Homo sapiens: one gene and its partner. The protein of the gene in region 1 binds, or shares a complex with, the protein of each later gene. Each region holds a gene or a part of one and is shown on either strand. Other genes may lie near its edges.

Region 1 (3,919 bases):
AAAAACTCTGGTATAGACAGATCGGAGAGCATTGAGCATTGCTTATAGTTTTGTTTGTTTTTTTTGAGATGGAGTCTCGCTCTGTCACCCAGGCTGGAGTGCAGTGGCACAATCTCAGCTCACCGCAAGCTCCGCCTCATGGGTTCACGCCATTCTCCTGCCTCAGCCTCCCAAGTAGCTGGGACTACAGGTGCCCGCCACCACGCCCGGCTAATTTTTTGTATTTTTAGTGTTAGCCAGGATGGTCTTGATCTCCCAACCTTGTGATCCGCCCGCCTTGGCCTCCCAAATTGCTGGGATTACAGGCGTGAGCCACCACACCCAGCCTGAGCGTTGCTTATAGTTAAACATTGTTTGTTTCATGATCTGTATGTTTATTTTGAGCTATAATGTAGAATATGTTTCTTGGTGAGGGTCGCAAACAAAGCTTGAATATTACTATAAGGTATTTGGTCACTGGGGAAGACTGAGAAGTGATACGATAGGGGGATTCTCTTTGACGTTCTTCAGACATATTGTCTTGAATGCTCAAGAGCCATCTGATGAATTGTCTCTTCCAGGAACCCTGTGGAATCTTTCATCCCATGACTCAATCAAAATGGAGATTGTGGACCATGCACTGCATGCCTTGACAGATGAAGTGATCATTCCTCATTCTGGTTGGGAGCGGGAACCTAATGAAGACTGTAAGCCACGCCACATTGAGTGGGAATCGGTGCTCACCAACACAGCTGGCTGCCTTAGGTAACAGTAGGGACTTTGAGAATATGAAGATGAATTTTTGAGGACTGACTTAAATTTCCTAAAAAAAAAAAAAAATTAAAATTCTTTAGCCTATTCTTTAGCCTCCATTCCTATCTGTATTGCATACTGTAACTCCAACCTTTCTATCTTTGTTGCTATTCTCTCATGTATACCACATGTACCTATATCAGTTTTCTTGCTGTTCCCCACACATCCTCTTCACTTTTATGCCTCTTTGACTTTGTTCATCTACTTTGGTAAGCTTTTGTTCAGCATCTACCACATGTAAGGTGGTCTAGTCCTGGACTTGTGTGTGTCTATGTCCTTGCCCTAGTTATTTGTATTTCAAGTCAGGCTGTGATAAATTCAGCAAAAGGGGTACAGAGTACTAGGAGGTTAGGGCATGGGTGAGGAAGGTCTGTTCTTTCTGTGATGCCTTTCTCTTCTTATTTATCTTTTTGTGGTTAAACTCAAGTGCCTTTATTTTATTAAAGTTTTCCTGAATTCTTTTTATATCCTATAAATGCTGCTATATAATCTTTCTCTCTTTGGAATACACCTCTGTGTGCTGTGTTCCATTCTACATATGTATTATATACTTCCATACGAGAAGTATATATTCCATCTTGAATTACTGCATCTGGTACATATCATTAATCCCTACCCCACAGTGATATAAACATTCAGAAGGCAGGGACTGTTAATCAACTTTCTCTCAACTGCAGTACCTTGCTTATAATAGGTATTTACTATTACAGTGAGTAGAAAAACATATTCAGGAATCTTGTAGGTGTTGAGGGATATTTAAGGGAGGATTTCTGGATTTGAGTCATCTTGAAGCTTCTGGTTTCCCCTCAGGAATGTAAGCTCAGAGAGGAGTGAAGCTCGCCGGAAACTTCGGGAATGTGATGGTTTAGTTGATGCCCTCATTTTCATTGTTCAGGCTGAGATTGGGCAGAAGGATTCAGACAGCAAGGTAAGTGCTGTCTTACCTTTAATGGCTGAGTGAATTTCATTCACCACAACTATGAAGTATCTGTAGGTCAGAGACCTATCATCTCAGGCTTTCAAGTAACATTAAATATTTATACTGTCCCCTACCCCTTATTTTTGAGACAGAGTCTTGCTCTGTTGCCCAGCCTGGGGTGCAGTGATGTGATCTCAGCTCACTGCAACTTCTGCTTCCTGGGTTCAAGCGATTCTCATGCCTCAGCCTCCCAAGTAGATGGGATTACAGGCGTGTGCCACCACACCCAGCTAATTTTTGTATTTTTAGTAGAGACGGGGTTTCACCATGTTGGCCTGGCTGGTCTCAAACTCTTGACCTCACGTGATCCCCCTGCCTCAGCCTCCCAAAGCATTGGGATTACAGGCGTGAGCCACTGTGCCCAGCCAAGCCCTTACTCCTTAAAGTGGGTATTCAACTTAAAACATGTTTTTTGTTTGTTTGTTTGTTTTTTTGAGATGGAGTCTGGCTCTGTCCCAGGCTGGAGTACAGTCCCGTGATCTCGGCTCATTGCGACCTCTCCCTCCTGGGTTCAAGCAATTCTCTGCCTCATCTCCTGAGTAGCTGGGATTACAGGCACCTGCCACCATGCCCGGCTAATTTTTGTGTTTTAGTAGAGACAGGGTTTCACCAGGTTGGTCAGGCTGGTTTTGAACTCCCGACCTCAGGTGATCCACCCGCCTCGGCCTCCCAAAGTGCTGGGATTACAGGTGTGAGCCACTGTGCCCGGCTTTTTTTTCTTTTTTTTTTAAATCTGTCACCTATGTATTTTAAAGCTGCTTAGCTGTCTTCCAAAATTGTACATTGTCTAAGTAGTAAGAATGATGATCCAATTTCAGTCACACACCAAATAGTGGCAGAAGCCAATAAGTCCATAGTTGGACCTTCCATTAGCCTGAGGCTACCGGGATTTCAAGAAGCCTGGAGCACTTAAGAGGCATCCTGAGAAGTTATGGATTGGGTTATGCATTTGAAGATCAACATTTTAATACCTGAGTCATGGAAACCTGTACTTGTGGAGAAATCACAATAGACATTCTTTTTTCTCATTGGCCCTTTTATGTCCCTAAGCTTGTAGAGAACTGTGTTTGCCTTCTTCGGAACTTATCATATCAAGTTCACCGGGAGATCCCACAGGCAGAGCGTTACCAAGAGGCAGCTCCCAATGTTGCCAACAATACTGGGCCACATGCTGCCAGTTGCTTTGGGGCCAAGAAGGGCAAAGGTGAGTCTTGGTTCCTGTTTCTTAGTCTTTAATGTGGGATAGGGAAAGGAAGGAACACTTTAGCTTAAGGTACAAAATACTTGGCAACAGTATGGGAGTCTGCCTGGTTATGGATGTCTTTTTGGTTTGCTGCTTTCCCTGTGTTGTGTGCTTCATTCAAGGTGTGGTGATGGGATGGTGGTTGTGATGTGTTGGTGGTGGTGGTGGTGGTGGTGGTGGTGGTATCAATGAGTGGGGCAGTGGAAAATGAGAACTCAACTAATCTGGGACCTTCTTCCCCATACGTCCTTTGCATTTTCTGTGTTTTTCTTTTCTTCTCTGTGCTTCCCTGCTTATTTGCCCATGATTCTGCTGACATCTTTCTCCTGCATTTTTCTTATTTCATTTCTCTTCTCTGCTTTCTACCTTGGGTGATGCACTGGAAGATGAGTGGTTCTCCAGAGGTGAGTGGAGTCTTTTAAGGTGCTTATCTACTTCTAATTTGCATGTTTTGATTTTAGCTTCCCTAGTATGTCCTTGCCTAACCTTTCCCTGTCTATGCATGTAGGAAAGTTCAGTTGAGGAAGACACTGAAACAAGTTTAGCTCTTTGGAGCTAATAGCTCACGGCATGCTGTTTCTGGGCAGCAGTCCCCATTATCAGAACTCAGGACAATAGCATCAACAGTGGTCATCCTCATCTTACCTATCTGCTGCCTGTTTTCTATCCTTGTTTCTGAATAGTCCCCTGCTGGAACAAGTTGCCCTCACCTGCCCCTTTTCCCCTCGTGGTGCATCTGTGATCAAAAGGTTCTGACTGAAGGATGAAAAATGTGCCAGGTGGAATCTTTTCTTTTTTAAACTGGCTTACCCCTTTTCCCGCCCTTTTTCATTTTTGTAGGGAAAAAACCTATAGAGGATCCAGCAAACGATACAGTGGATTTCCCTAAAAGAACGAGTCCAGCT
Region 2 (3,720 bases), on another chromosome or scaffold:
CCCAGAATGCAGTTCGCCTTCACTATGGACTACCAGTTGTGGTTAAGCTCTTACACCCACCATCCCACTGGCCTCTGATAAAGGTAAATTGTCAAAGTAGAATTTACCTTTGTTGCAGAATTGAAAATGAAGCATCTCTAGCTGTTGGATGGCTGTCTAAGCATAGTGATCAATAAGTAGGAATTGTATTCCTTAGTAAGTAGGAAGTATGGCTGCGATAGGGGTAAGATTCTGAAATGTTTGTGTAGTCAGAACTACTTTTAGTTGATACCAATAGATTTAGTGTGGTGGGAATTTTAGGGTAAGAAAATGATTTTGTTGAGTTGTATGCCAGTTCTTCCTTCTGTTTTTCAGGCTACTGTTGGATTGATTCGAAATCTTGCCCTTTGTCCCGCAAATCATGCACCTTTGCGTGAGCAGGGTGCCATTCCACGACTAGTTCAGTTGCTTGTTCGTGCACATCAGGATACCCAGCGCCGTACGTCCATGGGTGGGACACAGCAGCAATTTGTGGTAGGTAAATTCTTACAGTGATACCTGGCTATCTAAAAGGAATGCATAAATCCAAAGGATCCTGAACTTCTTTCTTTGGTCATTGGTTCCCCCCATCCGTCTTCCTGAAGAGCTAATGACAAAGTAAATAAATAAATAATTACACATTTCTATGGCTGCAGAGAAAATAAGGCATAGTGTGGCCCCAGTGATATTTCCTTGGACACGTCCTTCACATGGTCAGTCTTACAAAGGTTGGGTTAGGTGTTTCATAAAGTGTTCTCATTTAATTTACACAAAGGCCCACTTCCTTAGGAAGAGGTAGAGTCATAATTTGAGATCAAATCTGTGTAATTTCAGAGCCTCTTACCCTTGCCTCATCATGCATTTTGACTATAAATATTTAGCAGTCCGTTTTATTATCTTTTCTGTGAGTTAAACTTTTTTCATGGACCTAAGAATATTCAGAAATAAGTAGTAGCATTTCTGTACTCTTAACCACAAAAATCTCAACCTGAAGCTTTGATACAAAGTTTGTGTCTTAAAAGTAGCTTCATTAAAAGTATAGTCTAATGACATTTCTGATTTCTCAGACTTTAAGACCTTATTAGGTTAGTTTAGAAAACAAAGATGGAGCCTACCAGAACAGATGTTAGGAATCTCATTTTGCTGGTTGCTTTGTGTATGTACTCATATTGGGGCTTTGGCTTTCTTCATTTATTACTGTTGGTATTGGCCCATCTCCATGAGGTGACTTAATAGAACGTTGAGGGCACCTTTTATTTTAAATCTCTTTTCTAGGAAGAAGAGAGTTTTTGTGTCCTTGTAAGAATCAAGTTATTTATAAAAGCTGCTAAATGTAGCAGAATAATAACCCCTTTTAAAACTCAAATCCAGAAACAGGAGAAACAGATGGTACTTACATATTGCAAAAGCTATCTTCCTTCTATACATGAGGCTGTCAGCTGAATAGTCTTGGAAGAGTGAGGAGTGAATTTTTCTGCTGGCAACTCGGTTAGTTTTAGCAGTTGGTGCTAAAACTTGGCAAAGTTTTCACCAAATACATGGAAGATATACAAAAATAGAGGGGGCATGTAAAAGAAAAACGTTGACATAGTCTGAGCATTACTTTCTCATCTTCTCTTTTTATATACCTTTTACCCAGAATGATTGGTGCCCTTACTGTAGGAAAGTTGTCTTTGGGATTCAGCGCTGTATGGAAGCTCTGTTGCACTGTGTATGGGGGAGGGGTGCTGCTTTGAATTAGTGCTGCCAGGAGGCCTCTTTTCAGTGACATTCAAGTTAATGGAATCCTTCTTCCTTCCTGAACTAATTGCAAGTTACGGGGAACTTCGGGTATATAATGTAAATAATTACAGTCTAATAATTGTTCCTCAAACTTTACAGAGGAGAATGCCCTGTTTGTTAACCATGTTTCTTTTGGCAGGAGGGGGTCCGCATGGAAGAAATAGTTGAAGGTTGTACCGGAGCCCTTCACATCCTAGCTCGGGATGTTCACAACCGAATTGTTATCAGAGGACTAAATACCATTCCATTGTTTGTGCAGGTATGTTTTAAGTGAAGTGTTCTAGGTTTTATGTCCATAAAATTTCCAGATTGTAATGACTAATAACATTTCAGAAAATTAGGGACCATAATAGGGTTACCAACATTTAATTTTATGAAAATTCCCTACATTTTTTGGTCAGTAAGAGAAACATTGAGACTTGAGAAGAGGGAGGAGATTTCACATTTCACTTTTATGGGTGCCTAGAGGGGAGAGCTGACCTGGGCTGCCAGAGGCAGGGCATAGACCCCCAACCAATTCTGGGTTTTCCAAATCTTAGATCAGTTAGAGCTGCCTCTGAAGAAAGGGTTTATAGCTAAAAAATATTATGGAAATCCAGTGCTCCAGAGCATTAAACACCCCAAGACATAAAATTCAGAGAATATTATTTACTACAGTGTGAATGCCTCTTGCACTCTGAATTGGGAATGTTTGCACCACAGTGGGGGGCTTGCCATGTTTTAGCTTTAGATTTAATTAGGTTTTGTTTGTGTTTTCTCCTTAGCTGCTTTATTCTCCCATTGAAAACATCCAAAGAGTAGCTGCAGGGGTCCTCTGTGAACTTGCTCAGGACAAGGAAGCTGCAGAAGCTATTGAAGCTGAGGGAGCCACAGCTCCTCTGACAGAGTTACTTCACTCTAGGAATGAAGGTGTGGGTAAGTAAAAAGGAACCAAAGCCTTTAGCAGATGTGTACATTGAAGTCTCAGTTTTTCCTCAAGGGCCTTTTTCTCCTTGTCTCTTAGCGACATATGCAGCTGCTGTTTTGTTCCGAATGTCTGAGGACAAGCCACAAGATTACAAGAAACGGCTTTCAGTTGAGCTGACCAGCTCTCTCTTCAGAACAGAGCCAATGGCTTGGAATGAGGTAGGGAAATGTGAGCAGTTATTTATCTGGTAGTTTCCTAGAGCAGGTATGGCAGCTTGTTCTTTCCTCTCAAAACACTTAGTACACATTCATTTGCATTGATGTTTCCCTGGCTTGAGTATTTCTTCTTTATGCTGTCTAGCAACTGCTCTGAGGAAGAACTATAATACAAGCTTTAAAGAGTCTGTTCAGAATCATTACAAATAAGTTGTGTTATTTAAAATTATAATTCATAAGGGAGAAAGATGAAAAATGTTACCAGATTAAAGAAGATTTTTCAAAAGGATGTAAGGAAAGAGGCAGTGTTAAACACTGTTAAGAGGACAGTTTATCAGTATTTTTTACTAAACTTTAATAAAACTTTTCTATTTGAATTTCTGCTATGAATTTTTCTTCAGCATTTGTCCTCAGTACAGGTGGTTCCTTGAAACATTGTTTCTAATAAAACTAGAACATCCTGATATTTTATCCATTCTATAGAGATCATTGATGGTACACAGACATACAGTGGATTATGTTTGTTGAGTGAATGGAAAGAGAGATTGTTAGGTTTACAACGATGCAGCTCTTGAGACCGGAGTTTAAGATCAGCCTGGGCAACATAGTGAAACCCCATCTTTAGCTGGGCATGGAGATGGATGCCTATAGTCCTAGCTACTGGGGAGACGGGGGCAGGAGGATTGCTTGAACCCAGGAGTTAACAGACTGCACTCAGTGACAGAGCCAGACTCCAACACAAAAAAAAAAAAAAAAAAAAAGCAAATTACCAGTGAGTAGTGTGTTACTTGGGTTTTT

What was found.
Region 2: CTNND1 (region 1) and CTNNB1 share a complex: the UniProt entries of both Homo sapiens proteins name them as parts of the cadherin:catenin adhesion complex.

What each region holds. Positions count from the first base shown.
Region 1 is NC_000011.10:57,803,061-57,806,979, forward strand, and holds part of CTNND1 (catenin delta-1), read left to right. Parts: intron 1-560; coding exon 561-744; intron 745-1,602; coding exon 1,603-1,720; intron 1,721-2,821; coding exon 2,822-2,975; intron 2,976-3,400; coding exon 3,401-3,418; intron 3,419-3,854; coding exon 3,855-3,919. UniProt on the Homo sapiens protein: Key regulator of cell-cell adhesion that associates with and regulates the cell adhesion properties of both C-, E- and N-cadherins, being critical for their surface stability.
Region 2 is NC_000003.12:41,233,785-41,237,504, forward strand, and holds part of CTNNB1 (catenin beta-1), read left to right. Parts: coding exon 1-83; intron 84-354; coding exon 355-513; intron 514-1,939; coding exon 1,940-2,059; intron 2,060-2,564; coding exon 2,565-2,715; intron 2,716-2,803; coding exon 2,804-2,925; intron 2,926-3,720. UniProt on the Homo sapiens protein: Key downstream component of the canonical Wnt signaling pathway.